Homo sapiens: one gene and its partners. The protein of the gene in region 3 purifies or fractionates together with the protein of the main gene of each other region. This does not show direct contact. Each region holds a gene or a part of one and is shown on either strand. Other genes may lie near its edges. The genes, in order: LEMD3, TENM3, MME and PXMP2.

Region 1 (7,035 bases), on a different chromosome or scaffold from region 3:
AAAATACAGCTATCTATATTCATTTATATTAGGTGTTATAAGTAATCTAGAAATGATTTAAAGTATAAAGAATGATGTGCATAGGTTATATGCAAATACTATGCAATTTTATATCAGGGACTTGAACATCTGTGGATTTTGGTATCCATGGGGCATCCTGGAACCAATCCTCTGTGAATACTGAGGTATGACTGTATATATAAATTAAATGTTGTAGTTTTATTTTTTTAAGCAGATAGCTGTTTAGCTCTCATCATGATTATTTCTAAGTTCATAATATCCATTGAAATGATCTCATATATAAACCTTTTTTCAATCATTAAATACATTGTCTGCAATTTTTTTGATGTTTGTAAATGCTATAATAAACACCCAAGCTTAAAAAAACAGATGGCCTATAGTTATCTTCACCATCTTAAAAATCCTAATAGTAGTTTCATGTAATGATGCCTAACAAGATTAGTTCTGCTTTATAAAACTTTTTATTACATTTGCAAATTTGATACATTAGAATAACTTACCAGTTTTATATTAGGAAGTAAACTATACTGATCAAATGAAAACCTTATAATTTCCAATGCTGTTGAAGAATCTGTTGATAAAATACAATAGGACACTTCTTAGAAAAATCTTTTTTTTAGAGAGAATTTGAAATGACTTTTTATTTCTGTTTTTAGAAATTCATTTTTTCCTCTACGAGCCAGGCACAGTGGCTCATGCCTGTAATCCTAGCACTTTGGGAGGCCAAGGCAGGCGGATCACTTGAGGCCAGCAGTTCGACACCAGCCTGGCCAACATGGCGAAACCCCATCTCTACTACTACTAAAAATACAGTGATTAGCTGGGTGTGGTGGCACACGCCTGTAGTATCACAGTTACTTGGGAGGCTGAGGCACAAGACTGTGCTTGAGCCCTGGAGATGGAGGTTGCAGTGAGGCGAGTTCGCACCACTGCACTCCAGCCTGGGTGACAGAGCAAGACTCTGTCTCAAAAAAAAAAAAAATTCATTTTTTGCTCAAAAGGGACATAAAGACATACTAATAATACAAGCTCCATGAACACAGGGAATTTTTCACTGTGTTGTTTATGCTGCACCTCTAGTTTCTAAAATAGTACTTGGCACATGGTAAAGGTGTTTATAACAGTATTATATTTGATAAATTTTTAAAAATTGGACATATTCTAAATGTTCATTAATAAGGTGTTGATTAAAAGTATAGAATAATCATACAATGGAATACTATTTTGTTGAAAAAAATAGGGTTTTTTCCATGTAAACTGACATTGACACAATATTTTGTTCCATGAAGAAAACAAGTAGAACAGTAGTATGTGTAATATGATACCACATTTATTTTTACTATTTTAATTTAAAAATACTCTACCCACACATAGCAGTTCTTAAGCTTTTTGGTTCCCTATAATTACTGAGGACTCTGGCTTTTGTTTGTGGGAGATATACATTTATATGTTTTTGTTTCTATTAGAAAGATATATTTACTTTCTAATGGTAAATATGTATTACAAATACATGTTTATATTAAAAATTAAAACTGAAAAAAATTTATGTATTTAGAATAAGAAAAATGAATCTATTATATGTTAACGTAATGTATTTTTATGAAAAATAACTTTTCCAGAATGAAAACATTCAATGAGAACAGTGGCATTGTTATATATTTTATAAATCTCTTAAATGTGTAGCTTAATAAAAGGTGACTGGATTCTTATCTGCTTCTTTATTCAATCTGTCATGATGTTTTAGTTGAAGTATGTCATGAAAATCCAGCCTCACATTGATATGTAGTCAAAACATTGGAAAGTATTTTAGTTGCCTTTTCAGGTAATTGTAGATAGATATTTTCTTTGATACCATACCAAACCTCTATAAGTAGTAGTTTCTTAAATGTTAGTTGCAATGTGGAATGTCAGACTGTGCCAGTGAACTTTTTGTACTCTTGTCTCATAAAATCCTTTTATTTTGTACTTTGAATGGATCTTTTACCTATGCGTGATTGGTTTTTATAAAAATCAGAATTTTTCAAATGCATTGGTCATTTTCAGATGCATTGGTCACATTTCATTATTCCATATCAAAAAACTGCATTTGTTAATGTCACACAAATCTCATTGGAAAGGTCTTCAAGTATTGTGAAGTTGTCCAGGTCACAAAGATGAATGCTAGTTTTTCAAAATTCTACTTTTTACTTGAATGCTCAAATCTTATAATTGGTAACCCGGTCAGTTTTTCTTTAGTTGATAGGCTTACTGCTTTTATGTGTTGAGAATACTTGTCTGTGAAACATCCAAATCTGGAAGAGTTTGCCATTTATTTGTTCATCTATAAATAATATTGCATTTTTAAAAGTGGTAAATTCACTCTTATGATGGCACTGATAAACTAATGATAAAAAAAGAACTTCCAAGCCAGGCGCAGTGGCTCATGACTGTAATCCCAGCACTTTGGGAGTCCAAGGCTGGCGGATCACTTGAGGTCAGGAGTTTAAGTCCAGCCTGGCCAGCATGGTGAAACCTCGTCTCTCTAAAAGTACGAAAAAAGAAAATTAGCTGGGCCTGGTAGCTGATGCTTGTAATCCCAACTACTTGGGAGGCTGAGGCAGGAGAATTGCTTGAACCCAGGAGGCGGGGGCTGCAGTGAGCCAAAATTGTCCCACTGCACTCCAGCCTGAGTGAGAGAGACTCAGTTCCCAAATATGTAAAATATAAAAAAGCAAAATATTAACACTGATTATATTGGAGTAGTGGGAAAATGCTAACTTTTTTTTTCTTTTTTCTCATTCTTTTTAAAATTTTCTGTAATGAATATTTTATGTTATGTAGTTAAAATAAAAATGTTATATAGAGTGTGTTATAAAGGATACTTTACAGAGAGTCGAATGTAGATTAAGAATAGTTATTTTTCTCTATTTTTCTTGTTAGGATTTAGGTCCTGAATATGAAGGTATATTTAACACTTCATTGCAGTGGATCTTAGAAAATGGAAAAGATGTTGGAATAAGGTAAAGGATCTGATTTCCACTTTGACCATTCTGTACTGGGAGAAATGGTTTTTGACTTTAAATTCTACCTTACTTATTTTTAAATAGGTGTGTTGGTTTTGGCCCTGAGGAAGAATTGACAAATATAACTGATGTGCAGTTTTTACAGTCCACAAGACCACTGATGTCTTTTTGGTGTCGTTTTCGACGTGCTTTTGTTACTGTAACTCACAGATTATTGTTGTTATGCTTAGGTAAGTTGTAAAGATAAGAAATGAGATAAATTGCAGCCTGAATTTTTGTGTGTATTTCACTAAATGCCAGAGTTGAGAATTCATTTTTGTGATGGTTGCCACATAAGTCACAGCTAGATGTCTTCACTAAATATAATAAAAATAATGTCAGAATCATTCTAAAGGCTTAGAAAGCAGTAATATAAGGAGAGGTAGAAATAAAACTTTGTTATAAGACTGTCACAGAAAAACAAGTGTGGTCAGTATATACATAGAAATCTACTTTAGAAAGTAGAATTGAAAAATACAAAAATTGAGCTTATTTTTAAATAATAAAGTGTTATAAAGTTTATTAAAATTTAGTTTTTAAAATGTAATTTACCTACATTTAAAATTTTTATCATTTTTTAATTGATAATAGGGATTTAGGTGAGAGTTGTTTTTTCATTCTTTCTTTCTTCTTTAAAAATAATTCATTTTGGCCAGCTTTAGTGGCTCACACCTGTAATCCCAGCACTTTGGGAGGCAGGAGGATTGCTTGCACTCAGGAGTTTAAGACCAGCCTGGGAAGCATAGACCCTACCTCTACAAAAAAATTTTTAAAATTAGACAGGCATAGTGGCACGTGCCTGTAGTCCCAGCTACTTGGGAAGCTGAGGTAGGAGGATTTCTTGAGCCCAGGAGTTGGAGGCTGCAGTTAGCCATGATTGCACTACTGCCCTCCAGCCTGGATGACAGAGTAAGACCCTATCTCAAAAACAACAACAACAAAAGAAAAATTCATTTTACTTAAAGTAAGATTTAGTATGTTTAATCTCATGAGGTTCACTTTTCTAGTCGTTTTATGCTTCAAAGGAAAAAAGTTTGTGAAACATAGTTATATATATATATTTTTAAATAGTAGTTAGAATTTAAATGTTCACTTATCAGTGTAATGGAAGAAATGCTTTTTTCTAGAAAGTGAATCTTTGGAAAATGTTCAGTATTAAATTTTTTTATGTAGTTTTAATTATATAGCTAATTCAGCCATCTGTCTTGAAGGTTCATTCCGTTGTGGCAGTTAAAATAATCACTGAAATATTATTGAATGATATTGACCACAATTTTTAAAATACAAAGTATATTAATATTACAGGTGTAGTGATGGTTTGTGTCGTTCTGCGTTACATGAAATATCGATGGACAAAAGAAGAGGAGGAAACAAGGCAGATGTATGATATGGTGGTAAAGATTATAGGTATGATATTTGTAAGAATCTCAACTATTTCTAGAAGAGTCATTGCATGATTAAACTACATTATGTCAAGTGATTGATTCATTTGTAAATTTTATTTATTTTTAGATGTTTTACGAAGTCATAATGAAGCCTGCCAGGAAAACAAAGATTTACAACCTTACATGCCTATTCCACATGTACGCGATTCCTTAATACAGCCTCATGACAGGTGTGTTCAAAGCATTATGAGTTCAAGTAAATCAGAAAATTTAAGTGCTTTCTGCAGTATTGAAAATTATATTGAGAGCTGTGACCCTTCTCAACTAGACTTGCTTACTGCACAGGTTTTTTTTGGTTTTGCTTTGTTTTTGTACTTTATACTCTCTTTCTAAATTCTCTTCCATTCTCCTGATTTTGAGTGACACCTGGATTTCTAAGTCATTCTCATTCCTAGGCATTCTTGATTCTTTGTTGTTAGTCTCCATCTTATTTCCTTTAATTTCATCTTGATAAAGAAATAGATGACAGCCAGTGGCTGGTGTTTTACTAATGTTTTTTAAGTACTAACTTTATTATTAATGAAGCTTTTAAAGTAAAAACTAAAATGCAACTTTTTGAAAATAAAAGATAATTCCATATCCTGAAGCAGCATCTTGACCCTAGCAACACATAAAGCCAGTGGAGCTTTTGGGGAAAAAAAATACAGATGTTTGTGCTCTAGCTCTGGAAATTGAAACTCAGAAAATCTGAGATGAGATATAGGCATCTAAATCTTCTTTGAACAAACTCCATGAGTAGTGGTAAGAACAGCTAGAGTTAACTATTACCTCAGATACTAATATTTCAAAAAGATGACAAGCCAAGATGATAGTAAATTTGCCATTTTGTTCACATGATAGGAAAAAAATGAAGAAAGTCTGGGATAGAGCTGTTGACTTCCTTGCTGCTAATGAGTCTAGAGTTCGCACGGAAACACGAAGAATAGGTGGTGCAGATTTTCTGGTTTGGCGGTGGATCCAGCCTTCTGCATCCTGTGACAAAATATTAGTTATACCTTCTAAAGTATGGCAAGGTCAAGGTATGTATTTTTAAACATCAAAAAAGTAATTTTCTTCTAATTTTTCAAAATGACAAATATGTGTTAAGTGAAACAGTACAATTCAAAGATGTATGAAGGCAAAACTCTCTCGTTCTGTTTCGTAGAAGGAATCAGTGTTAGCTTCTTATGTATCCTTCCACACTTTTATCTTTGCTAATGCAAACATAAATGGTTTATCTTTAATAAAGATGAATATTCCTTGAATCTTGCCTTTTTCACTTAATGAAGCAACTTAGTATTATATATATTAACTGCATTCTTTTCATCTAATTTCTTTATGTAAATAAGACACATAATTTATGTTATATATACAATAAAATATATATAAACTATATATGTATATAAGTGAAGTCATAACTTTTTAACTGCTCTTTTTTTTCCAGTTTTTGCCTGCCTCCTCTTACTAAGACCTTTCTATTTATATATTCCTCCTGCCAAGTAACTTTTGTGGGTATCTTTCCATATTTTTCTTAATGCCTACATAGTTTCAAAAACATGTATAAATAAGAAAGGGGTAAGTTTATAGGGGGTTTTGAAGATTGGCTGTCATATGTACCCAAACCTTTACTACACAGAAAAGCAGAAAACAATGCATCAGAAAATTATGACTTTTTCCCTATAAAAGTATGTCAGTATTTGCTAAACATAGTATTTGTGGAAAAGGTAAGTTGTTTTGGACATGCAATACAAAGTCCAGTCACTCCTTTTTTATTCTCCAATTAATTTTCACTTTGAAAAAGCTTGAATAAGAGGCTTCTTTAAACATGGCATAAAAGTGATGCTCTGTCAGGGTAAACAGCTAAAGCAGGCAGGGCTTAATACCTGGGTGATGGGTTTGAGTTGATAGGTGCAGCAAACCACTATGACACACGTTTACCTATGTAACAAATCTGCATGTCCTGTACATGTATCCCAGAACTTAAATTAAAAAAATGATGCTTTCATGTTGCCAATGATTATACTATTTCCTCTAAATGATGCATGCATTTCAGTTTCCCTATAAACTGAAAATAGAGAATTCCTTATTTTACTTGACCTCTTAACAGTGTTTGACAGTTCAGCCCTCCTTGAAACTTTCTTCACTGGGATTTGGGGATGCCACCTTCTTCTGTTTTTTTTCTCCTACCTCAGACTTTTTCTTCAGTCCTTTTCTAGATTATCCTCTTTTTCTTCACCTCTAGGTGTTAGAGTTTCTCAAGGCCATCTTTTTTTTCCCACTCTGCCATTTCTCCCTAGATAATCGTCTTGCTGTGACTTAATTTACCATATTGGGATAACTCCCAAATTTTTTATTTTGAATGAAGTCTGGTTTTCAGATTTTTGTACCCAACTATATATTTCTGTACTAGGAGGTGGGCACCACAGATTCAACATGTACACCAGCCTGATCCTCTTCAGTGTTCCTAGTCTAGTTAATGATACCTTTCCTGAGTTGATTCTGCCATAAACTTAGGGATAATTCTTAATCTCTCCTTTATCCCTCTTTGT
Region 2 (4,158 bases), on a different chromosome or scaffold from region 3:
TCCAGAGCATCGGGATCACCTTGAGGGGGAGGGATCTCGAGTGCTCCCTCCACCCGGGCTGTCAGCCTTCTGGTCAGGGAAGGACCCCGGGGCTTCCATGCATGCCCCGGCGCTGCCCCCAGAGTCCCGTGTGTGGGTCAGGAGTGGGGAGGCTCCCGGCCGCCTCTGACGCGCCCCCTCTTTTGTTTCGCCCGCAGCCCATCTTCGGAGTCCAGCAGCAAGTGGCGCGGCAGGCCAAGGCCTTCCTGTCGCTGGGGAAGATGGCCGAGGTGCAGGTGAGCCGGCGCCGGGCCGGCGGCGCGCAGTCCTGGCTGTGGTTCGCCACGGTCAAGTCGCTGATCGGCAAGGGCGTCATGCTGGCCGTCAGCCAGGGCCGCGTGCAGACCAACGTGCTCAACATCGCCAACGAGGACTGCATCAAGGTGGCGGCCGTGCTCAACAACGCCTTCTACCTGGAGAACCTGCACTTCACCATCGAGGGCAAGGACACGCACTACTTCATCAAGACCACCACGCCCGAGAGCGACCTGGGCACGCTGCGGTTGACCAGCGGCCGCAAGGCGCTGGAGAACGGCATCAACGTGACGGTGTCGCAGTCCACCACGGTGGTGAACGGCAGGACGCGCAGGTTCGCGGACGTGGAGATGCAGTTCGGCGCGCTGGCGCTGCACGTGCGCTACGGCATGACCCTGGACGAGGAGAAGGCGCGCATCCTGGAGCAGGCGCGGCAGCGCGCGCTCGCCCGGGCCTGGGCGCGCGAGCAGCAGCGCGTGCGCGACGGCGAGGAGGGCGCGCGCCTCTGGACGGAGGGCGAGAAGCGGCAGCTGCTGAGCGCCGGCAAGGTGCAGGGCTACGACGGGTACTACGTACTCTCGGTGGAGCAGTACCCCGAGCTGGCCGACAGCGCCAACAACATCCAGTTCCTGCGGCAGAGCGAGATCGGCAGGAGGTAACGCCCGGGCCGCGCCCGCCGAGCCGCTCACGCCCTGCCCACATTGTCCTGTGGCACAACCCGAGTGGGACTCTCCAACGCCCAAGAGCCTTCCTCCCGGGGGAATGAGACTGCTGTTACGACCCACACCCACACCGCGAAAACAAGGACCGCTTTTTTCCGAATGACCTTAAAGGTGATCGGCTTTAACGAATATGTTTACATATGCATAGCGCTGCACTCAGTCGGACTGAACGTAGCCAGAGGAAAAAAAAATCATCAAGGACAAAGGCCTCGACCTGTTGCGCTGGGCCGTCTGTTCCTTCTAGGCACTGTATTTAACTAACTTTAAAAAAGAAAAAAAAATGTGTACAGTGTTTCCAAATAGTCCCGAATTGTCGACCTTTGCTTACAAGAAGTAGTCTGTCTGCATAGGATGTGATAGCTATCTCTGTTCATTTTACAATGTGGGGCAAAGTTACTGTTTCTAGACAACCCAACTGCTTTCCCTGTGCAGCTTTGTAGAAGGACATTGGCACAGTGACTTCTGCGGCGGGGATTTATTAATGGATTTTACAATGCTAACGTGGTTTCCCTTCGGGGAAAAAACTGGCAACTAGAATCCTTGTCACTGATAAGCAAAGGAAATCCTGATTTTTTTGTAAATTATGTGAGACAAGTTGTTTATGGATTTTTATATGAATTACAATTTACTGTACATCAAATCTTAGTCTCAGAGGAGTTAATTTATGTAAAGTGTTTAAAAATTTATACTTAAAAATAAAATGATAAAAACGTGAACTGTGTGATTTTTTTAAAAGGATTGCACCTTTTGTTATCTGTTATAGCTGTACAGTATGAATTATTATATTGTAGAGATATAACAACTTATGCCTATAATGTCCAGAAGTGTTAATATTTTTGTATTAGGTTGAAAAAATGTGCAAGCTTCTATCACTAGATGGATAGGACCGTGCAATTCTAGGTGGGTGGCGAATCAGAGAGCTCCTTTCTCTTCCCTCTCTCACGCATCAGGCCAGTGTCCTCAGCATTGTCAACTGAGAGGCACAGTAGACAACTAGGGCTGGTGGAATGTAAGGGAAGAAGATTGAAAAAACGGGAGGAAGGGTTCTCTGGCCCTCTCTCAACCTTGCAAGTCAATGGGGAGTTGTTGATATAATTAACCCCGAGGTTTTTACTGTTACTGTTCCAAAGCTCTGTCTCTTGATGGAGGAGAGACCACATCAGATGCTGGGGAAATAGGAGGAGGAAAGGTTCTGATGTAGTCGTGATCCTAAACACGTGTCTTAAGATCTAGGAAAGACAGCAGAAACCGAGCAGTGGTGGGTGAGCCAGATGGAGCCGGTCAGGGTTACTCTAAGCCCACATGACCAAACCATCTTGGGGGGCTGGTTTGAATGACAGCCTCTGCTCTGTCTCGGGGAAGCCGGGGGTGGCAGATCCAGCTGGAAGTGAACTGACAGCCGCGCCCTCCTGCACACATGCATGCACGCGTGTGGGAACGAGCCCAGCCGCCATCTGCACTTCCGTGTCGGCTCAGCTCTGACAAATCTCTTTCCTGAGCACTAAATTCAGCCACGAAAATATTTTTAGAAGATATTTCTCAGTTCATCGAGCTATAGTACACACTGTTTTCCTCTATGTATAATGGTGATAAAATATAGCAAGTGAACATGTCGTAAATATAAAGGTTCAAGTGATGTATTGAAAATAATTTTCTAACTGCTTTGTATGTATCACATACTCTAAATTGCACAGTAGGCGTGTTTATTAAACAGATGATTGGCTGGGAAAGTTTCAAAATAGCTACTGAATTTACAGTATCAGTGCTATTACTGTCTTTGTGTATTTGGTAGAGCATACCGAAGTAATTAATCTTCTAATGAATGCTGATGATATTTTATTAGAATGAAAGCACAGATTAGCATTAATATTTTTTATTCTGGAAATCCTTTGGCAAGTATTATGAAGCCCAAATTTAGAAAACTATGAGATTTCAAACCACATAAACATGATTCTGTTTTCCATTTTATTTTTTAACTGTTAGGTATTTGCAGTTCTGTTCCGTGGAACTTCTGCAGGCCTGTATTTAGCATGCTGTAAGTACTTTTGGGTGAAATAGGCTCTGAGTCTAAATTCTCAGACATGTTTCTGATGTATTACCATGAAAAGCTTGTGCCACATGACAGAAGTGAGATCATAGTCTTAACCTCTTCTTGACGTGGACTGGTCTTCACTCGGGCACCGATAAATAACAGATTTGGAGTATCTCCTGGTGCTTATTTTAGATGATGAAGTCAAATCAACCCAATTAGTGTCCTGTTAGTAGGTATAATGAGCCTATTTCTTTCTAAAAAGACTTGTGATCTGGACATGCTTTTACAAGAAATAGTGACCTTGGGGAATATGTAAACAAAAGACCTTTTTCTAAGAGTTGGGAGGGGGTGGGGGACTGTATAATGAAAAGAATTAGCTTACAAAAAAGAAATTGATATTCAAAGTATTTTAGGCAAAGCCAGTCAAAATGCTTTCATGATATTTTGAGATGTAAATTTTGTCTGATTTGTATTGTTCTTTTCATTTGCCTTCTTAACTTTATATGTGACCTGAATTTTCCATAACTTGATGACTATAGATTGCACCTAGGCATTCCAATAAAAGCCAACCCAATGTGTGTGTGTTTTTATATTTTTTCAAGTCTTGGGCTAGCCAGCATTGCTTTTGTGTTTAACGTGGAGGACGCAAATAGATGCAGTTGTTGGGGAATTGATTCATCTGCAACCCAGTTGGTAGTATCTTTTTTTTTTTTTTTTTTGTCCATTGGCCAGACTGCTGGCTCAGCAGAGTGAACTTCACAGGGGACTCTCCCATGGCCTACTTTAGAAAAACAGTAAACACACCCCCACAAAGCCAAACACGCTAACTGTAAAGAAGAGTTTACAAAAATACCACCCATTACTACTTGAGAGCAGGCCTCATTCCTGTGATCCTGGCAATAAGTGTGCTTAATTAAAACACTTGATTAGAATAATCAGTTTGGGCCTGGTAGGCTTGCAGCCTCCTGGAGATGTCTAAATCTACATATAGACCGGCTGATTAGAAGATGCTTAGTTCAGCAATTCTGGCCGGCAGGCCAGGGCTTTGATTTTAGTCGGAAGAGGCAGACTTCATCACACTTGCTTTCTAGTGACAACCTCAACTGCATA
Region 3 (7,035 bases):
TATTCTGTGGCAGTGTCCACTTTTTGGTTTAAAGTTTTTAACACATCTCCAGTTGAGGTGAAAGATTTTAGGAATACAGGTATGTTTTTGCATACCCTGCTTTATACAGGACTACAAGTATCAACTTGGTAACTTTTTGTACTATTTTGTTTACTTATCCCCCTTACTCCCCTCTTAAATGGGATTGGGCGTGGTTAGGTTGGATATTCAGGTATCTTTTGGTACAGTGAGTGACCATTTTCAGAATGTTGTCTAACCAGTTAATAGATACTGGTATCAGTAGTAGTAGTAATTTTGAACTGTAAAAATAAAGGTTGTTTTTATGACTAAAATAAACTACTTCATGTGTTCATTCGTTTTGCTGTTTATCTATATTAATATTTCAAATTATTGCTTAGTCAAAACCTCAAGGTATTAGTCACTGGTTTTTGAGCTTATAAAGGAAGCCACTGGAGCAAGATATAAAATTAACCATTGATGTTAGTCCAGAGTTCAAAAGGGTGAGTTTAAAACTTTCTTAATGATGGTACAGCAATTATTTGCTTATAAACTGCTGAATTAATCCTACTTGAGTATTTAACCAAGTCTTACTGTCTAATTTTGCTGAGATTTTCAGTGATATACCAAAGCAAAACAAAACAAAACAACAGCAACAAAAAACAAAAGGTTGTGACTGAGACCTGTCAAATTCATTTGGCTCTATATACTTTGCATTCAGCAACAAAATTTTGACTTCTCAACAGCAAAAATGTATTTCTATTTTAAAATAACTGAGCCTTTTACTTTTATCCAGCCACATTAAGCATTTGGACATTTTCTTTTTTATTTATTTGTTTTTCATTATTAGTATTTTCATTTTTTGCAGATTTTAGGTGATGGGCAAGTCAGAAAGTCAGATGGATATAACTGATATCAACACTCCAAAGCCAAAGAAGAAACAGCGATGGACTCCACTGGAGATCAGCCTCTCGGTCCTTGTCCTGCTCCTCACCATCATAGCTGTGACAATGATCGCACTCTATGCAACCTACGATGGTGAGTTACTCCCACACCTGTGCATCCATAAGTGCAAAAGAGAAGGAAATCTTCCTCCATGCTTTTACCATCTATCCAACGAATGTGTTAAGGATAGAGGCACTTAAAGACTGACAAAGAGATTCATTTATAAAATGTAACATCAATATGTCAAAATAATTAACTTTGAAGTACGGTGCCTTTTATGTTTGAGCTAAGTTATTAATTGCAAGTATATTTAGTGCGCTCACGCTTACTTATGAGGAATCTAAAGTATGGTTTTATTTGATTAAAATATACACAATTTTATGGCCAGCTTTAGTAATAGTCATTAGTCAACTTTTGTTGTGTCATTGAAATTCTAAACGGCTTCACAGGAATTTAACAAATTTAATTTGAGTCTTGGAAGTTTTTTACAACAAGGATGAAAAAAGATTGATTGTTTAATGGTTAAAAAAATGATTACCAAGCAAAAACAACTGATTATTTCAATTTAATAGGCCTGGGGCTTCGTTGGTAGAGAAGATATAATAACACATTTTTCTTCATAATCAAAATTTTAAATTTAGATTTTACTTATTTTATTTTCTTATATTTTTTCTAACCACTGACAATGATATATAATGTTCAGTTTTTAGTTCTTGCTTTAAGAAATTGCTTATTTAATTGGCAGTTTTTAAAAGAACAAAAGAAAAATAGAAATTTAAAAATTTGTGTTGCCAATATTTATGTATATTCTCTCCTTTTTCTAGATGGTATTTGCAAGTCATCAGACTGCATAAAATCAGGTAAGAAATGGTTTTTACGTGTAATAGTTATACAACTGATGTATAATATTTAAAATTAAATGCTAATCTTAATTTGCTTTGTTTACACTTTTATTCATTGTAGATCAATTATTTATGTGTCTGGCTCTATAATCAATGGAAATAAAAATATATTTAAGTAGTAGATTAATTAACTTGTTTACTCTGAAAAATATATTACTATTTTCAGCCCTGGGCTGTATAGCAGGGCAATAGAAAACTATATCGCTATTTGTATGGAGCTTGCCATGTAGTTGAAGAAAGAAAATGAACACATATGAAATGGTAAGTTTCGTATCATTGTGTTAAATGTCTCAGTGCACCTCACTAGGTGGGTGAGAAGAAGGGAGTGAGATGTAGGCATGTAAATCTAGGTGGAGAAGTTAAAATCTGGGAAGAAATTTCATTTTATTTATTTTTTTTATTTTTTATATTTTGAGACAGAGTCTCGCTCTGTCGCCCAAGCTGGAGTGCAGTGGCGTGATCTCGGCTGACTGCAATCTCCGCCTCCCGGGTTCTAGCAATTCTCCTGCCTCAGCCTCCCAAGTAGCTGGGACTACAGGTACCCACCACCACGCCTGGCTAATTCTGTATTTTTGGTAGAGACGGGGTTTCACCATATTGATCAGGCTGGTTTCGAACTCCTGCCCTCAGGTGATCTGCCCCCCTCGGCCTCACAAAGTGCTGGGATTACAGGCGTGAGCCACCGCACCCAGCCTTAAATTTGGGAAGAACCTTGAAGCAGGGCTAGAATTTAGATGTGGCGGTGCAGAAGAGGGAATTCCAAACACAAAAGAAAGAAACTATGTTATTGAGAAGTAGTAAAAGTGTACGCTTGATAGAAGGACACATTATGGAGAACCTTGAAATCCATGTTTAGCCTTGATATTGTAATACAGGAGAAACAGATATTTTTGAACAGAGGAGTGATCAGGCCAAAGGTGAAAGATGATTCTGCGAATGTGAGGTTGACTGGATTGAGTGAAAAGGAGGGCAGGCAGGTGGGGGCTGCTTCTGTACTCCAAGTGTAAGCTGAAGAGGTTGGCCTGTGGTGAGAGAAGAGTACTATTGAGATAATGGGGAGGGAGAATTGGGTGACTCAGTAGAACTGACTTGCTAAATAAAATGAATGAATTGAGAATGATGCCAAGTTTTAAAACCCAAGGGACTAAAGAGAATGGAGGCAGCCCACACAGAAATAGAGAGGTTATGAGGTGGATGTGGATGTGTTTGGTCTAAGATGAAAATAGACAGGAGGAAGGTAGAGATGAGGTTTAAGAAGCTGGAATTTGGATTTGAGATCTGTCAGTTTAGGAGTGATAGTGGAAGCCTTGGAAGTATTTGAGTTCTCAAAAGAAGAGAAGAGGTTCAAGGGCTAAACTTAAGAAGAGGTTCAAGGGCTAAACAACATCAATGATTAGAAGAGAAGAAAAATAAGTCAGAGCAGAAAACAGAGAAGTGTATGAAGCTATATAAATCCCATCAATTGGAGTGTGGTGAAAATGGGAGTATTTCTTCTTTCTTCAAGAAAAAGGAAGGTGGTAGCTGAGGGCAGCACCTGGGATATGAACACAATATTTGTGTCCTTTAACAAGAGATTCTAAACCTCCTTTCTAACATCTATGTGTCTTATAAGAAATAAATAAACTGTTCCAAATAATTTTAACCATTTTCTGCTGGATATTTTTAATTTTATTTATTTATTTATTTGAGGCAGGATCTTGCTCTGTCACCCAGGCTGGAGTGCAGTATTGTGATCACAGCTTACTGCAGCCTTGATCTCCTGGGCTCAAGGCATCCTCCTGCCTGAGCCTCCTGAGTAGCTGGGACTATAGGCACCTGCCACCATTCCTGGCTAGGTTGTGGGTTTTTTGTTTTTTTTGTTTTTTTTTGTTTTTTTTTTTTGTAGAGACAGGGTCTCACTATGTTGCCCAAGCTTGGTCTTGAACTCCTGAGATCAAGCAGTCCTCCTACTTGTCTTCCCAAAGTGCTGGGATTACAGGCATGAGCCACTGCACCCAGTCTTGGATATTCTTTACTTGGATTTTTGTTATTCACTGAACTTTGCAAAAAAATGACGGGAAAATATCTGGCAATTCTAGGTTATAGTCTAATATCCTGAATCTGTGCCCTTTGGTTTTTTTTTTTTTTTGTATCGTTTTTTGATGGATTTTTTTGCTCTGGGTCACAAGAGCAATGACTAGACACCCTGAGATGTGATGTGGGGAGCGTGAGGGAGACTTGATTTAGATGTTAGCCATTTGCTGCTCGACATAGTAAGTTTTTCCCAAAAACGAAGTTTCTTTATTCCCCAGGGAAATGGCTGCACAGGTACCTTGGCTGGGGGATCTCCGTGGTCATGTGCAAAAGTCAGCATGTGCCCAAGTTGTCAAAGTTAACGTTTACTTCCTCCCCAGATCCTCCTATGCTTCCTCTCTCTACCAGCTACCCTATTATATGCTCAGGCTGTCCTGTTTCGGGAAACTTCCACTTACATATTGACTACTAAGGGTTAATTCCTCTGTCTTTAATACACTTGACATGTCTCTTTGGTATCTTAATCTATAGATTCTCTCTTCTCTCACTATTTTTCCTTTTTCTCTTCTTTTCCTTGAATTTTATTTTCGAAGAAACTGGATTTTTTGACTAGGTAGGTGTATTTCTATAAACGACAAGTGATTTTGCCTCAGAGATCTAGGCAGGTTTTTCCTCCCAAGGAGCAATGTGACATTCAGAATCTGGAATCTTAAATGTGACTTAATGTTTAGAGATAGGATTTTTAAATAGTGTTTGGCAAGTCTCAACTCACTAAAATGTATTTAACCTGTATCCTTTAATTGTAGCTTAGAAATCAAACCAAATGTAAAACACCTTGCAGGATGTATCTTGGCAGAGAAATGTATACAATAGAAATAACTTCAGTGGTAAACAAGGTTGCTGTATAGCTGTATATTTTTCTTCATTCTGCTCTGTTGGTTCACAAGCCATTAGAATACTTGTTCACATTGGTAGTTACTATTCTTCCTAGGAGAATAAATAAGATGACACACACCCTCATGGATACACTCTGCATACTCATAAACACACACACTCGTGCGCGCACACACACACACACACACAGTCTTCTGCTGGTTAGGAAATCTTTTCTGCCACAGAAAAATACAACTATTTCTTTTAGAAGTTGTTGCAAATTAGGAAAACCCTAGAGGAAATCTTGGACAAAAGCAAGTATTAAAGAAGAGTGGCCAGAGTAGAGTAGATGGAAAGAAAAAGAAATGTGAAAAGAGAAGGCTGGGCACGGTGGCTCACGCCTGTAATCCCAGCACTTTGGGAGGCTGAGGCGGGCAGATCACCTGAGGTCGAGAGTTCAAGACCAGCCTGACCAACATGGAGAAAACCCATCTCTACTAAAAATACAAAATTAGCCGGGTGTGGTGGCGCATGCCTGTAATTCCAGCTACTCAGGAGGCTGAGGCAGGAGAATTGCTTGAACCCAGGAGGTGGAGGTTGCAGTGAGCTGAGATTGCGCCATTGCACTACAGCCTGGGCAACAAGACTGAAACTCCATCTCAAAAAAAAAAAAAAAAGAAAAGAAAGAAATATGAAAAGAGAGATGTTGAAAAAATATAAAATATCTTACCAGCAAGTCTATAGGTCACTTTAAGAGAGTGGGTGGGTTCAAACCTGAGCTCAGAAATTCTTGAGAATGGGAAAAGCAAGTATTGACACTCAGGGTGCTTACATTATATGAAAGATGGCCCCAACTTGAACCTTTCTTCCAGTGGAAGGGAATGTCATAGCAAATGTACTTATCTTTGATTCTTTGAAGTCAAGGAATACAGAAGTCAAGCCATACCAAGACAGAAGTAAAATATTGCAGAAGGCTGTTTCAAATCTGTTTGGTGTTACATATTTAAAATCTGAGCATCTAGGATTTAAATATTTATGATGTACATAAAATGATGTTTATGTATACTTTAAATTAACTTGCCTATATGTGTAATGCATCAGTATGAAAGATTACACCAGACCTAAAGTAAAACAAATACCACTTAAGAAATAACAACTTAAGGCAGGGATCAAAATGCTTCAAAGTATTATTCATCGCTTATTTACCCTATAAGGTCATCAAAAACTTAGAGTTATAAAACTTGTATGTGATTTTGCAGACTTTTCCGTGTAAGTCTGAATCCTGAAACTGATTTCCATTGCATTGTAACCTCCCTAACTTAGATTTCAAGGAATCTTGTGCTTTAAATCAGGGTTTCTCAACTCAATCACTATTGATATTTTTGTGCTAGATAATTCTTCGTTGTGGATGCTATTCTGTGTATTATAGGATATTTAGTAGCATCCCTGGCCTCTACCAACTAGATGTCCAGTAGCAGTCCTCTCCTAGTTGTGACAACCAAAAAATGTCTCTAGCCATTACTAAATGTCCCCTGCAGGCAGCACGGTCACTTATGACTGGGTACCACTGGTTTAAACGGTCTCAAGATGTTATCAATGCTTCCCTCTTAACGGTAGGCAGGATAATGGCCTCTCAAAGATATTCACACCCAATTCCCAGAGCCTCTGAATATGTTGCCTTATATGGCAACATGCCTGTAATCCCAGCACTTTGGGAGGCCAAGGCGGGTGGATCACTTGAGGTCGGGAGTTGAAGACCAGCCTGGCCTACATGGTGAAACCCCATCTCTGCTAAAAATACAAAAATCCAGGCATGGTAGCACGCGCCTATAATCCCAGAGGGAGGAGAATTGCTTGAACCCAGGAGGCAGAGGTTGAAGCGAGCCAAGATTGCACGACTGCACTCCAGCCTGGAAGACAGCGCAAGACTCTATCTCCAAAAAAAAGAAAAAGACAACAGAGAATTGAGGGGTCTGCAGAAGCATATGTTAGAAGTGTGGTCCTAAATTATCCAGAGGCCAGAGAAGCCAAGCTAAGACGTGATCAATACAGTTTACAAGAGAAAGTGGGACCACCTCCACCTGTATAGTCATGCAGGTTGTACACTGCATATTTGTCGATGGCAGCCTTGACAGACAGGCTTGTGGAACATCAAGACCTGGATGAAACACCTCTCAGAACTGTCCACTCCTTTTATTTTAATTCTGCACATACCAAGAAAACTTTTGATGATTACTTAATTATTAATACAAGGAGAGGTGGCATTCTGTTACTTGAAAGATATTTTCATCATGGTGAGATAATG
Region 4 (7,035 bases), on a different chromosome or scaffold from region 3:
GGTGAAACCCCATCTCTACTAAAAATACAAAAATAAGCTGGGTGTGGTAGCGGGCTCCTGTAATCCCAGCTACTCAGGAGGCTGAGGCAGGAGAATCGTTTGAACCCGGGAGGCAGAGGTTGCAGTGAGCTGAAATCGCACCACTGCACTCCAGCCTGGGCAACAGGGCGAGATTCTGCCTCAAAAATAAAAAATAAATAAATAAATAAATAAAATAGGACTACAAAGGAACCAATAATACTGAAATACAGTTATCAAAATATTCAGAAAAAATTTTGACAGACTAATGTGTTTATTTATTTATTTATTTATTTTTGTCTTTTGAACCAGTGTCTTGCTCTGTTACCCAGGCTGGAGTGCAGTGGTGTGATCTCTGCTCACTGCAGCCTCCACATCTTGGGCTCAAGGGATCTTCTCACCTCAGCCTCCCAAACAGCTGGAACTACAGGTGCACATCACCACACTGGCTCATTTTTTACTTTTTGAGAGATGGGTATTCGCCATGTTGCCCAGGCTGGTCCCGAACTCCTGGCCTCAAGCTATCCACTGGCCTTGGCCTCACAAAGTGCTGGGATTACAGGTGTGCACCATCATGCCCGGCCCTGTTTCTTTTTTCTTTTTTCTTTTTTTTTTGAGGCAGAGTCTTGCTCTGTTGCCCAGACTGGAGTGCAGTGGCACAATCTCAGCTCACCACAACCTCCACCTCCCGGCTTCAAGCGATTCTCCTGCCTCAGCCTCCCGAGTAGCTGGGATTACAAGCACGCACCACCATACCTGGCTAATTTGTTTTGTTTTGTTTTTTGTTTTTGAGACGGAGTCTGGCTCTATTACCCAGGCTAGAGTGCAGTGGCGACATCTCGGCTCACGGCAAGCTCCACCTCCCGGGTTCACGCCATTCTCCTGCCTCAGCCTCCCAAGTAGCTGGGACTACAGGCGACTGCCACTGTGCCCAGCTAAATTTTTTGTATTTTTAGTAGAGACGAGGTTTCACCATGTTGGCCAGGCTGGTCTCGAACTCCTGACCTCAGGTGATCCACCCGCCTCGCCCTCCCAAAGTGCTGGGATTACAGGTGTGAGCCACTGTGCCCGGCCTGTTTCTTTCTTTACACAGTGACAAGACCTCTAATGGCAGGTCCAAGTAGTAATGAGCATAAATTATATTTCGAGATATCTGTAACAACTGATGTGATATAAAAATATCTGATTAGCTGGGTGTGGTGGCACGCACATGTGGTCCCAGCTACTTGGGAGGCTGAGGCAAGAGGATCGCTTGAACCCAGGAGTTTGAGGTTTGCAGTGAGCTATGATTGTGCTACTGCACTGCAGCCTGGGTGACAGAGTGAAACCCTGTCTTTAAATAAATAAATAAATAAAGTGACTCTACTGGGTACAAACAGGTCCTGCCAATACTAGATGTTTGCTTCCTATATTCATAAAAGAAAATGCAAAATTTCAATTTGAGTGAAAAATCTGCAGACCCTCTGAATTCTGCCGAGAATGTCAGGTGAAGAATCCCTGTGCTAAACGAAGAGCTGCAGTAAGTGCTGTGGCAGACACCCACCTCCAGAAAGTTCATGATGAGGAAGAACAACATGAGGAAGGCCGGTGCAAAGACGAGGCGGTCCAGGAGAAGCCTCCTGAGCCCTGCCAGGGGGACCTCAGGAGGGATCCAATGTTCCATGAAGAAGTAGAAGAAGTGACTCAGCGGCCCTGTGAAGAAGAACCTGAGGCCCCCAGGGGGTGTGAGCCAGATTGTGGTTCTCTGGATGTGCTCTTCTCTGGTCTAGCTTCACCCCCAAATCCCAGGTCCTAACCCCTGCTTCCTGATGTCCCTCAGTATTGGCCACACAGGTCTGTACAGATAAGTCGGCTTCAGGGGCGCTCTGTCTCTGTTGCTCTAACAGACCAGACTTGCTCCTGCCGTTGACTCTCTGCTCCCAGCGCGTCCCCGCCTAGCTATGTTGGCTCGCTCCTCCTCACACTGTCAGCTTCCAGGTCGTCCCAGCACGTGTGCACGCCTGTGCTAACACTCTTGGCCCTGGTTCATTTTCTGCCTAGCACTGTCCTTATCTCATATGTTAGGTTAGTCTGTGCCTCTCGTCCCCCCTAGAAGGCAGGCTCCACAAGGGAGGCTACGTCTTCTGTCCACTGCAGTGCCCAGAACAGGGCCAGGCTTCGAGAAGCACTCAATAATGAATCATCAGACATGTCCCTGGTTGTGGAGCTTTTCATTAAACTCACTAGGCTAACTGGCAAGGGAACTCACTAGGTTAACTGGCAAGGGCACTCACTAGGCTAACAAACTGGCAAGGGAACTCACTAGGCTAACTAACTGGCAAGGGCACTCACTAGGCTAACTGGCAAGGGCACTCACTAACTGGCAAGGGCACTAACTGGCTAAGGGAGCTCACTAACTAACTGTCAAGGGCGCTCACTAACTAACTGTCAAGGGCGCTCACTAACTAACTGGCTAAGGGAGCTCATTAACTAACTGGCAAGGGAGCTCTCTAACTAACTGGCTAAGGGAGCTCACTAACTAACTGGCAAGGGCACTCACTAACTAACTGGCTAAGGGAGCTCACTAACTAACTGGCTAAGGGAGCTCACTAACTAACTGGCTAAGGGAGCTCACTAACTAACTGGCAAGGGAGCTCACTAACTAACTGGCTAAGGGAGCTCACTAACTGACTGGCAAGGGCGCTCACTAACTGACTGGCAAGGGCGCTCACTAACTAACTGGCTAAGGGAGCTCACTAACTGGCTAAGGGAGCTAACTAACTGGCTAAGGGCGCTCACTAACTAACTGGCAAGGGCGCTCACTAACTAACTGGCAAGGGCACTCACTAACTGACTAAGGGAGCTCACTAACTAACTGGCAAGGGAGCTCACTAACTGGCAAGGGAGCTCACTAACTGGCTAAGGGAGCTCACTAACTAACTGGCTAAGGGAGCTCACTAACTAACTGGCAAGGGAGCTCTCTAACTAGCTAAGGGAGCTCACTAACTGGCTAAGGGAGCTCACTAACTAACTGGCAAGGGCGCTCACTAACTAACTGGCAAGGGCGCTCACTATCTAACTGGCTAAGGGCGCTCACTTAACTAACTGGCAAGGGCGCTCACTAACTAACTGGCTAAGGGAGCTCACTAACTGGCTAAGGGAGCTCACTAACTAACTGGCTAAGGGAGCTCACTAACTGGCAAGGGCGCTCACTAACTAACTGGCAAGGGCGCTCACTAACTGGCAAGGGCGCTCACTAACTGGCAAGGGCGCTCACTAACTAACTGACTAAGGGAGCTCACTAACTAACTGGCAAGGGAGCTCACTAACTAACTGGCAAGGGAGCTCACTAACTGGCTAAGGGAGCTCACTAACTAACTGGCTAAGGGAGCTCACTAACTAACTGGCAAGGGAGCTCTCTAACTAGCTAAGGGAGCTCACTAACTGGCTAAGGGAGCTCACTAACTAACTGGCAAGGGCGCTCACTAACTAACTGGCAAGGGCGCTCACTAACTGGCTAAGGGCGCTCACTATCTAACTGGCTAAGGGCGCTCACTTAACTAACTGGCAAGGGCGCTCACTAACTAACTGGCTAAGGGAGCTCACTAACTAACTGGCAAGGGAGCTCACTAACTGGCTAAGGGAGCTCACTAACTAACTGGCAAGGGCGCTCACTAACTAACTGGCAAGGGCGCTCACTAACTGGCTAAGGGCGCTCACTATCTAACTGGCTAAGGGAGCTCACTAACTAACTGGCAAGGGAGCTCACTAACTAACTGGCAAGGGAGCTCACTAACTAACTGGCTAAGGGAGCTAACTAACTAACTGGCAAGGGCGCTCACTAACTAACTGGCTAAGGGAGCTCACTAACTAACTGGCAAGGGAGCTCACTAACTAACTGGCTAAGGGAGCTCACTAACTAACTGGCAAGGGCGCTCACTAACTAACTGGCAAGGGCGCTCACTAACTGGCAAGGGCGCTCACTGACTGGCAAGGGCGCTCACTAACTAACTGGCAAGGGCGCTCACTAACTGGCAAGGGCGCTCACTAACTAACTGACTAAGGGAGCTCACTAACTAACTGGCAAGGGAGCTCACTAACTAACTGGCAAGGGAGCTCACTAACTGGCTAAGGGAGCTCACTAACTAACTGGCTAAGGGAGCTCACTAACTAACTGGCAAGGGAGCTCACTAACTAACTAAGGGAGCTCACTAACTGGCTAAGGGAGCTCACTAACTAACTGGCAAGGGTGCTCACTAACTAACTGGCAAGGGCGCTCACTAACTAACTGGCTAAGGGCGCTCACTATCTAACTGGCTAAGGGCGCTCACTTAACTAACTGGCAAGGGCACTCACTAACTGGCAAGGGAGCTCACTAACTGGCTAAGGGAGCTCACTAACTAACTGGCTAAGGGAGCTCACTAACTAACTGGCAAGGGAGCTCACTAACTAACTAAGGGAGCTCACTAACTGGCTAAGGGAGCTCACTAACTAACTGGCAAGGGTGCTCACTAACTAACTGGCAAGGGCGCTCACTAACTAACTGGCTAAGGGCGCTCACTATCTAACTGGCTAAGGGCGCTCACTTAACTAACTGGCAAGGGCGCTCACTAACTGGCAAGGGAGCTCACTAACTGGCTAAGGGAGCTCACTAACTAACTGGCAAGGGCGCTCACTAACTGGCAAGGGCGCTCACTAACTAACTGACTAAGGGAGCTCACTAACTAACTGGCAAGGGAGCTCACTAACTAACTGGCAAGGGAGCTCACTAACTGGCTAAGGGAGCTCACTAACTAACTGGCTAAGGGAGCTCACTAACTAACTGGCAAGGGAGCTCTCTAACTAGCTAAGGGAGCTCACTAACTGGCTAAGGGAGCTCACTAACTAACTGGCAAGGGTGCTCACTAACTAACTGGCAAGGGCGCTCACTAACTAACTGGCTAAGGGCGCTCACTAACTAACTGGCTAAGGGCGCTCACTATCTAACTGGCTAAGGGCGCTCACTTAACTAACTGGCAAGGGCGCTCACTAACTAACTGGCAAGGGTGCTCACTAACTAACTGGCAAGGGCGCTCACTAACTAACTGGCAAGGGAGCTCACTAACTAACTGGCTAAGGGAGCTCACTAATTAACTGGCAAGGGAGCTCACTAACTAACTGGCTAAGGGCGCTCACTAACTAACTGGCTAAGGGAGCTCACTAATTAACTGGCTAAGGGAGCTCACTAACTAACTGGCAAGGGAGCTCACTAACTAACTGGCTAAGGGCGCTCACTAACTAACTGGCTAAGGGAGCTCACTAATTAACTGGCAAGGGAGCTCACTAACTAACTGGCTAAGGGAGCTCACTAACTAACTGGCTCAGGGAGCTCACTAACTAACTGGCTAAGGGCGCTCACTAACTAACTGGCTAAGGGAGCTCACTAACTAACTGGCTAAGGGAGCTCACTAACTGGCAAGGGAGCTCACTAACTAACTGGCTAAGGGAGCTCACTAACTAACTGGCAAGGGCGCTCACTAACTAACTGGCTCAGGGAGCTCACTACCTAACTGGCTCAGGGAGCTCACTAACTGGCAAGGGAGCTCACTAACTAACTGGCAAGGGTGCTCACTAACTAACTGGCAAGGGAGCTCACTAACTAACTGGCAAGGGCAGGACCTGGTGCAGCACTCTAGGTTGTGTGCGTTGCTACTAATCATTCCCCTGTGTGTTTGGGAGAGAATGGAACCAGCTGCCACATCTACTGGGACAAGAGGCCTGCAGTTCCATAAAATTCAGCAACAAAAAGAGGGGTCTTTCAACTTGTGACGTTGACAGTCTTTAGATAAGTGGTTCTCAGTGTTTTTTCCCACCCAGTCATAGGGGGTTATGTGGCCTATGCAGGGATTCTCAGTGGGGAAGGGGACTGAAGTCCTGTGGATGGGAAAACTGTACTTGGATGAGGCCTGCTAGGTGATCTCATCACCTGCCCCTCTTGGGGGGATTACTGCTTTAAATACAGTATGGAAAAATCCATGATGACTCAAGTTAGCAAGCTTGGAAGTATAAAAATGATCTTCAGGAATTCTGAATTAAAGAAAACATCACTGTAGTTGGAAAATACTTCACATTACTGTTGGCCGAGAGCTCACGGTGGATTAAATTGGTAAAACTCTTGAATTACTGTGCTTTTGCAACTCAGAAAGTGGTTCAGAAACTGGACATTTTTCAGGGTACCGAAGCATTTATTTTCTGGATGTTTACACTATGAAAATAACAATAGAGGCCAGGCACTGTGGCTCGCGCCTGTAATCCCAGCACTTTGGGAGGCCAAGGTGGGCGGATCACGAGGTCAGGAGATCCAGACCATCCTGTGAATGGTGAAACCCCGTCTCTACTAAAAATACAAAAAATTAGCCGGGCGTGGTGGCAGGTGCCTGTAGTCCCAGCTACTCGGGAGACTGAGTCGGGAGAATGGCGTGAACCCAGGAGGCAGAGCTTGCAGTAAGCCAAGATCGCGCCACCGCACTCCAGTCTGGGCAGCAGAGTGAGATTCCGTCTCAAAAAAAAAAAAAAAAAATTAAAATAACAATAGAAACTAACTGGTCAAATTGGAGTCAGTTTTCCCTTTCCATGAGCCCAGTCTAGGACGCTTTCAGGGTTTTTGAATCCTGAAGTCTGACTTTAGGTTAAGTTGAGTTACTTGTCCTCAGGTTTGCCTCTCAGCCCAATTAAGACAGTCACCCCTACCCATCCAATTAAAAAGAAACATGATAAAACCACAAATGTGAGCCTGTACTCCTAGCACTGTAATCCCAGCACTTTGGGAGGCCAAGGAAGGTGGATCACTTGAGGTCAGGAGTTCAAGACCAGCCTGGCCAACATGGTGAAACCCCATCTCTACTAAAAATAACAAAAATTAGCTGGGCATGGCGGTGTGTGCCTGTAATCCCAGCTATTTGAGAGGCTGAGGCAGGAGAATCACTTGAACCAGAGAGGCAGAGGTTGCAGTAAGCCTGGGTGACAGAGTGAGACTCTGTCTCCAAAAAAAAAGAAAAA

The links.
Region 1: the proteins of MME (region 3) and LEMD3 purify together in Homo sapiens (affinity purification with mass spectrometry; 2 studies listed by BioGRID and IntAct, with this or other methods). This does not show direct contact.
Region 2: the proteins of MME (region 3) and TENM3 purify together in Homo sapiens (affinity purification with mass spectrometry; 2 studies listed by BioGRID and IntAct, with this or other methods). This does not show direct contact.
Region 4: the proteins of MME (region 3) and PXMP2 purify together in Homo sapiens (affinity purification with mass spectrometry; 2 studies listed by BioGRID and IntAct, with this or other methods). This does not show direct contact.

Annotation. Positions count from the first base shown.
Region 1 is NC_000012.12:65,235,562-65,242,596, forward strand, and holds part of LEMD3 (inner nuclear membrane protein Man1), read left to right. Parts: intron 1-2,940; coding exon 2,941-3,020; intron 3,021-3,107; coding exon 3,108-3,253; intron 3,254-4,367; coding exon 4,368-4,469; intron 4,470-4,574; coding exon 4,575-4,677; intron 4,678-5,347; coding exon 5,348-5,526; intron 5,527-7,035.
Region 2 is NC_000004.12:182,799,399-182,803,556, forward strand, and holds the end of TENM3 (teneurin-3), read left to right. Parts: intron 1-197; coding exon 198-953; 3' UTR 954-3,626; downstream 3,627-4,158.
Region 3 is NC_000003.12:155,083,293-155,090,327, forward strand, and holds part of MME (neprilysin), read left to right. Parts: exon of another isoform or gene 1-750; intron 751-865; 5' UTR 866-875; coding exon 876-1,035; intron 1,036-1,766; coding exon 1,767-1,802; intron 1,803-6,541; coding exon of another isoform or gene 6,542-6,588; exon of another isoform or gene 6,589-7,035. UniProt on the Homo sapiens protein: Thermolysin-like specificity, but is almost confined on acting on polypeptides of up to 30 amino acids. Biologically important in the destruction of opioid peptides such as Met- and Leu-enkephalins by cleavage of a Gly-Phe bond.
Region 4 is NC_000012.12:132,690,573-132,697,607, reverse strand, and holds part of PXMP2 (peroxisomal membrane protein 2), read right to left. Parts: intron 1,725-7,035; coding exon 1,562-1,724; intron 1-1,561. UniProt on the Homo sapiens protein: Seems to be involved in pore-forming activity and may contribute to the unspecific permeability of the peroxisomal membrane.